Homo sapiens: one gene and its partner. The protein of the gene in region 2 interacts with the protein of the main gene of each other region in a pairwise test. Each region holds a gene or a part of one and is shown on either strand. Other genes may lie near its edges.

Region 1 (3,748 bases), on a different chromosome or scaffold from region 2:
ACTCGCTCTGTCACCCAGGCTGGAGTGCAGTGGCACGATCTCGGCTCATTGCAACCTCCGCCTCTCGGGTTGAAGTGATTCTCCTGCCTCAGCCTCCCAAGTAGCTGGGACTACAGGTGCACACCACAACATCCAGCTAATTTTTGTATTTTTAGTACAGACGGGGTTTCACCAAGTTGGCCAGGATGGTCTCGATCTCTTGACCTCATGATCCGCCCACCTCGGCCTCCCAAAGTGCTGGGATTATAGGTGTTAGCCACCACACCCAGCCTATTTTCTTTTTTCTTTTTCTTTTTGGAGACAGAGTCTCACTCTGTCCCCCAGGTTGGAGTGCAGTGAGGCAATCTTGGCTCACTGCAACCTCCACCTCCTGGGTTTAAGCGATTCTCCTGCCTCAGCTTCCCAAGTAGCTGGGATTACAGGCATGTGCCACCACACTGGCTAATGTTTGTATTTTTAGTAGAGAAGGGGTTTCACCATGTTGGCCAGGCTGGCTTAGAAATCCTGATCGACCTGCCTCAGCCTCCCAGAGTGCTGGGATTACAGGCATGAGCCACTGCACCTGGCCTATGCCTGCTCTTTGAGGTCAGTTTTGGTTTCATACTTTAGCCTCATTTTGCAGTTGAGGAAACTGAGGCTTAAGGAAGATAAGCCCTTTGTTAAGTATCCTCTAGTTCAGAGGGTGCAGAAGGAGCATTTGAATTCAGGGCGACCCAGGAGGATGTGGGCTCCACAAGGGTGGAGATTGGGTCTCTCTGGTTCCTCACTGTATGCGGTGCCCCGCCCAAGGCCTGCACCCACTAAGGGCTGAATAAATACTTGTTCTAAGACCAGGCCCAGTAGTGCACGCAGGTAATCCCAGCACTTTGGGGGGCCACGGTGGGAGGAGCCCACGAGTCCAGGAGTTAAAGATGAGCCTGGGCAACATAGCAACATCCCATCTCTACAAAAAAAATTAAAAATTAGCCGAGTGCAGTAGAGCACCTGTAGTCCCAGCTACTCAGGAGGCTTAGTCAGGAGGATGGCTTGAGGCAGGGAGGTCGAGACTGCGATGAGCTGTGATTGCACCACTGCACTCCAGCCTGGGCAACAGAGGGAGATCCTGTCTCAAAAAAAAAAAGCAGCAGACAGAAAGAAAACTAATTTCCTGCACAGCTTGGAGAAGTTTTCAGCACCAACATTCCACAGTTGGTTGTCTGGGTTTGGGCAGTAGGCCGTTTTCCCTCCCAGTGCCTCAGTTTCCACACCTGCAAAACGAAGCCACGGAAACGCCCTTTCAGGGTGGCCAGGGGTTCTAGGCGGCATCGCCCGGTGGCAGGGTGTTCCCAGGGTGAAGCCGCAGGGTTCCCGGGTGGGGGCGGGGAAGGCTAAATGCGGCCGGCCGGTGAGTGGCGGGAGCAGCTGCAGCCCCGCCCGCGCCCTCCCGGGTCCCTTAGTCTGGGCAGCTGCCCAGCTCGGGCCGGTCTGACCGGTTTGGGCCGCCCCGCCTGGCGCTGTGCTGGGAGGAGCCGCCGCCAGTCGCGCGGTCAGTGCCTCCCTCCAGACTCGGGAGGGTCGAGGGGGCGCGGGAGAGAGCGCGGGCGGCCGCCGGGGCTGGTCGCCTGCAGGGATGGGGGACGAGCGGCCCCACTACTACGGGAAACACGGTAGGCAGCGACCCCCGCCCGTAGCCCCGGGCCGACCCCTCGGTCCCTCGGAGGGGGCCTTGAGAGAACATGGGGCGCAGGGAAGGGGGCTGGAGGGGGAGCGCAATTGCAAATCTGCGCCTGGAGCCTCCCCACCATCAGCCAGGCCCCTTCACCCCACTTATCCCCCGCAGCCTCGCAGACGACCCTCCTTACTCTCCCCTACCCGAAGGACCTGCCCCTGTACCCCTCTGCCTGGCACTGCTGCCGGCGCCTCCTTCCCCCTATCCCACCTCAGATCTTCCCCATCTCCACCTGGTTCCGTGGTGGTCACCATTTCAGCCCTCTTCCCAGTGGGTGGCCGCCAGTTAATAAGTTTGTTCACAGTTAGTGATCCCTCCTTCCTCCCCTGTCCTGGCCTGCCAGAACTGGGGGCTTGGGTGTGGTCACCTGGAGGTGGGTGAGGCAGAAAATTCCACAGGTCTCTGAATTTTATTCTTGCCAAGGCAAAGACACCCCTAGGGGCTTTTGGGAGGGGGCTCTCCCAGCCCTGTCTTGGTTCAGGTCTCCAATCCCATCCATCTTAATCTTCTTGACTTTCAGGAACGCCACAGAAGTATGATCCCACTTTCAAAGGACCCATTTACAATAGGTAAGAGCTCTGGGTTTTGGGGGGTTCTCCCCGCTAATACTACCCCAATCCCTGTCTCTTCACACCCCCTCCCATCTGTTCTCCAACAAACTGGTGACAAATATTTGAAACTTTTTTTTTTTTTTGAGATGGAGTCTTGCTCTGTCACCAGGCTGGAGTGCCGTGGCGCGATCTCAATCTCGGCTCACTGCAACCTTCGCCTCCCGGGTTCGAGCAATTCTCCCACCTCAGTCTCCCAAGTAGCTGGGATTACAGGCTTGCACCACCACACCTGGCTAATTTTTTTTTTTTTTTGTACTTTTAGCAGAGATGTTTCGCTGTGTTGCCCATGCTGGTCTCGACCTCGTGAGCTCAAAGCGATCCACCTGCCTTGGCCTCCCAAAGTGCTGGGATTACAGGTGTGAGTTACCACACCTGGCCTGGACTTAATTTTTACCATGTTTATATTTATTTATTTATTTATTTATTTTTGAGATGGAGTCTCACTCTGTCACCCAGGCTGGAGTGGTGCAATCTCAGCTCACTGCAACCTTCCCCTCCTGGTTCAAGCACGTCTTCTGTCTCAGCCTCTCCAGTAGCTGTGACTACTCAGAGGCTACTCAGAAGGCTGAGGCAGGAGAATTGCTTGAATCTGGGAGGTGGAGGTTGCAGTAAGCTGAGATTGCGCCACTGCACTCCAGCCTGGAGGACAAGAGCGAGACTCTGTCTCAAAAAAAAATAACAAAAAAATAAAATACAGCCAGGCACGGTGGCTCACACCTATAATCCCAGCACTTTGGGAGGCCAAGGCAGGTGGATCACTTGAGGTTAGGAGTTCGAGACCAGCCTGGCTAACATGGTGAAACCCTGTCTCTACTAAAAATACAAGAATTAGCTGGGCATGGTGGCGGGCACCTATAATCCCAGCTACTTGGGAGACTGAGGCAGGAGAATCGCTTGAACCTGGGAGGTAGAGGTTGCAGTAAGCTGAGATCGTTCCACTGCACTCCAGCCTGGGCGACAGAGTGAGATTCCCTCTCAAAAAAAAAAAAAAAGTCTAGCTTGGGCAACATAGCGAGACCTTGTCTCTACAGAATGTATATAAATTAAAAAAAAAATGTGTGGTGGTGTGCACCTGTAGTCTCAACTACTTGGGAAGCTGAGGCAGGAGGATCACTTGAGCCCAGGAGTTCGAGGCTGTAGTGAGCTATGATCATGCCACTGTACTCCAGCCTGGATGACGGAGTGAGACTCTGTTGCACAAAATTAAAAAATGAAATGAAATAAAAATTAAAATGCATGTGCCCTTTGGTACGGCATTCAAACGACTCAGGAAAATTTGTCCAAATAACACATGGATGAGGGTGTTTGCAGAGGGCAGATGGGCCCATGGTGCACACAGCACCAAGCCTCCTCCAAACACTGCCCCTCTGCTCCCCAGGGGCTGCACGGATATCATATGCTGTGTGTTCCTGCTCCTGGCCATTGTGGG
Region 2 (3,748 bases):
TCAAGTTTATAATATACAAACTATTAAGAGCTATAATAAGAATTTTTGGACAGTTCCAATTTTAAACTGGGGTTTAGTGATTTAAATTGGGATTTAGTAATTCAAAGACCTTATCGTTAACCCAGCGCATATCTGTCCCGGAAGTGTCCTAGTTATTGCTTTGAGGAAAAAAAGTATCAGTGTAGAAAAGTTAAAGTATAGGCCTATTTACTATAATTTATAGATAATATATTCAGAATCTATAAATATCACTAACTTGAATGACTTTTTAAATGATTTTATTAGATAGCTTAGGAGGGAGAAAAATAGTTTACAAAAAATATTTTTTGCTCTTTAAAACTGCTGATCAACCATAGAGAATGATATAAAACAAGGGACTGTTTACTTGCCGTATCTTTAAATAGTCCAAGTTCATCTTTTATTTCAAGAAAAGTAAAGATTAAATGAGTGTCCATTCTCTAATAGTATATCATAGTTCTGTGGTTTGATGGCACAAACAAAGTGAAATACTTACCAAACATTATTGTCAAGAGGGCAATTGGCATCACAAACAATCCAACCAGCAAATCAGCCACCGCCAAGGACATTAGAAAGTAATTAGTAGCATACTGCAGCTTCTTCTCCAGTGAAACAGCCAGAATAACAAGGGTATTTCCACCAATTGTGGGTATTATCACCATGAGTATCAGAAGAGCTGCCCAGTGCAGTTTATTTCCCTGTTCCTCAACAATCTGTTTCATTTCCTCTGGTATTGATTCTGTCTGTAATCCAGACCAGTTAGAAGAGATAACGTGAACAAAGGTGCTCTGCAAAATGTGCTCAGGAATTGTGCTTTGAAGTTCAGACACTCTGTAAGAGAGAGCCATTTGCTGTTTTTCTGTGATTCAATCCCGTTCCGAACAGTGGTCAGCATGGTTAGTAGCTAAGCTGCTCATCTGTTTTTTTAAGGCATTGTAACCATGCCAAACACTCAAAAGCCAAAGTTGACACCTTCCTTTAAAAAAAAAAATTCAAGTTCTCTAAAATGAGCGCATACACACATCTGTCCATGTTTGTAGGTAAGATATCCAAGTATTTATTATTTTCTAGAGGCTTAAATTTAGGAAAGCTCAGTGAAAGAAACTGATAGCTGTGAAAAAAATAGGATATATATATATTTTTAGTTTCTCTCTCTCTCTTTTTCTGCCGTAGTTGTAGAGTCGTGTTTGAACTTGCATGCCAGAGAGTTCCCCCTAGATACAAAATACATAGACTGCATTATTTTATTCATTTCTGAAAGTGGTAAAAACACTTGAACTTCATAGCCCTTCCCTTCTTAGTAAGTCTGTTGTGCATTTGTGACAATGCAGCCAATTCTCCAAATATACTGTATTTCTGATGTTGCTCAGTTAATGAAACAGAAGACACATTAATTTTTTCAATGGTTATAATAAAAAGTTAGGTGTTTCCTGACCCTTGAATGTCTTTTTACCTTTACTTACAGAAGAATAGAAAAGTCGAAACACAATAGTTCAGAATAGAACTTTTAGTATGCGCTGGCCACCCACCTAGAAACACTCAAAGCCCAACAAGGGTCTAAATAAATGTTTTACCAGCTAGGGATCCTTATATGTAATTAGCTTTGTCTTATCAGGTTTGTGAGTACTGATATAAATGTCATTTTAGATTTCCTTTAGTTTGAGAGAAGGAAAAAAAAAGGTATTACTAGGATCCAAATAATTGTGTTTAGTAATTTCATCTCTCATGGTATGTCTTTGCAACAATTGTGTTCTAAATTTAATCACTAAATTTGCCAAATTCAAACCAGTTCTTTTTTTGTTTTAAGTAGTGTTTATTTTTTTAACCTTCCCAGTTGCCTTGAGAAGAAAGGGAAACCAAAAGGAAGATTAGACCATTTATTTGTTCATCAAATGTACAAATCACGTTTTTAAAAACTCTCCTTTAGCATTAGTAAATTTTTCATTTTGATTTTTAAACCGCTGAATAGAAATGAAAGATTATGATAGCAGAATTCTTGAAGATTAAAAAAAAAAACCTTTAGATTAATTCCATATGTGTTTATTAAATGCTTACCTCTGGTTTCGTTGTTATTTTGCTGAGCATGTCATCTTATCTGTTCACTAGACTTGCTTGCTGCTGTGACTGAAATCCTCCTCCCATTGACTTATTCTGAGCCTCCAGCACAGGCGGTTGAAAGCAGTGAAACAAATACGTTGTATAGCTGCAAGCATGCCAAGGAGGTTATTTCCTCTTTGATACATTCATTTTTAGAGAGTAGCAGCATTCATTGTAATTCATAAAACCACTGTTAAGCATGTTGAACCAGTTCATGGCCCTTATTCAAGTTATATTTTTAAGAGCTCTCTTTAATATTTGGGGGGACTGTAATAAACTTGATCATTTTAGCTTCAGATAGTTTTGTTTGGGGTTAAGCCTGAGCTGTTTTTCACATTTGAGAAAAAATAAGATATAATCTAGCTATTTTAGAGGTTTCATTCTTTGAAGATTCTGCCGTTTTAAAAGCCTATAGTGATTTCTACAGTTCTGATTTCTAGCAGTGAAACAAGATTCTTATCTAGCTTTTGTGCCTTTGCTGTGGAACACCATTAATTTGCTCTGGTTGCAACCTTATATAGAAGAGCACAGAAAGGCCTGAATTCTACATGTATACATAGGTTTTAGCAGAAACTTTTTTACTGCTTATTTTTAAACAGATGATCTCTGGGTTTAGGAGTGGTTCACAGCTTTTTTTCCCCATAGACTTTACGTTGGAGAAAATACAAGTAATGAAAATACGTTTTTGCCTTATTTCAGAAAATTGGTGTTTAAATCTTAATAGTTATGCTATTTAAGTTTTCTGTAACCATAAGACTAGCTTAGTATTAGAACCTCAGCATTCTCAAGGTTTCCTTTTAAAAGATCATTATAGATGCATATTTTAAAATTAATTACTTATAAATCAGTGATGACATTTGTGCCCTTTTCTTGTTTCAAATTTGTATTCCTTTGCTCATGTTGAATGTTATTGGAAAATACTTAGTTCATTTTAGCTCTGCTGAGCACTTCAGATTTTATTCAGTATTTGCTGCTTTTTTAAAAACTCAAAATTTACTATATTAGAAAAAATACTTGTGAAGAATTCTAGATGAAATAATATTCAAGAGAAATCAGATGTTTTTTAATGTACCAGAATTTCTATTCAGGAATATGAAAATATTTTAAGGCAAGGTGCGGTGGCTCATTCCTGTAATTCCAGCACTTTGGTAGACCAAGACAGGTGGATTGCTTGAGTCTAGAAGAGACCAGCTTGGGCAACATGGCAAAACCCCATCTCTACAAAAAAAACCACATAAATTAGCCAAGGGTGGTGGTTCACACCCGTAGTCCCAGCTACTGGGCGGCGGCGGAGGGGTTGAGGGTTAGGGGTCAGGGGAGACCTGAGGCAGGAGGATTGCATGAACCTGGGGGAGGTCGAGGCTGCAGTGAGCTGAGATCACACCACTGCGCTCCAGCTTGGGGTGACAGAATGAGATCTTGTCTCCAAGATTAAAAAAAAAAGAGGAAAAGAAATTATTTTTAAATACTGCTTAGTTGTGAGTTACACTTTGACATCTGTGCTTATGAAGGCAGGTAGGGATCTGCAAAACAAGTAATGTCAGATTGAAAATAGCAGCACCATTTTATATCCAGTGAAAAGACTTGTATGAAATAAGCCTTTATTGATTTGTTTATAGATAAAATTTTTTAA

The links. Proteins that work in one complex are often made in the same cells at the same time.
Region 1: the proteins of HTR2B (region 2) and SLC44A2 interact in a two-hybrid assay, tested with the Homo sapiens proteins (one large-scale study listed by BioGRID and IntAct).

The regions. Positions count from the first base shown.
Region 1 is NC_000019.10:10,624,025-10,627,772, forward strand, and holds the start of SLC44A2 (choline transporter-like protein 2), read left to right. Parts: upstream 1-1,528; 5' UTR 1,529-1,609; coding exon 1,610-1,646; intron 1,647-2,228; coding exon 2,229-2,277; intron 2,278-3,697; coding exon 3,698-3,748.
Region 2 is NC_000002.12:231,122,899-231,126,646, forward strand, and holds the start of HTR2B (5-hydroxytryptamine receptor 2B), read right to left. Parts: upstream 2,145-3,748; 5' UTR 2,104-2,144; coding exon of another isoform or gene 2,074-2,103; exon of another isoform or gene 1,233-2,073; 5' UTR 867-1,232; coding exon 515-866; intron 1-514. UniProt on the Homo sapiens protein: G-protein coupled receptor for 5-hydroxytryptamine (serotonin). Also functions as a receptor for various ergot alkaloid derivatives and psychoactive substances.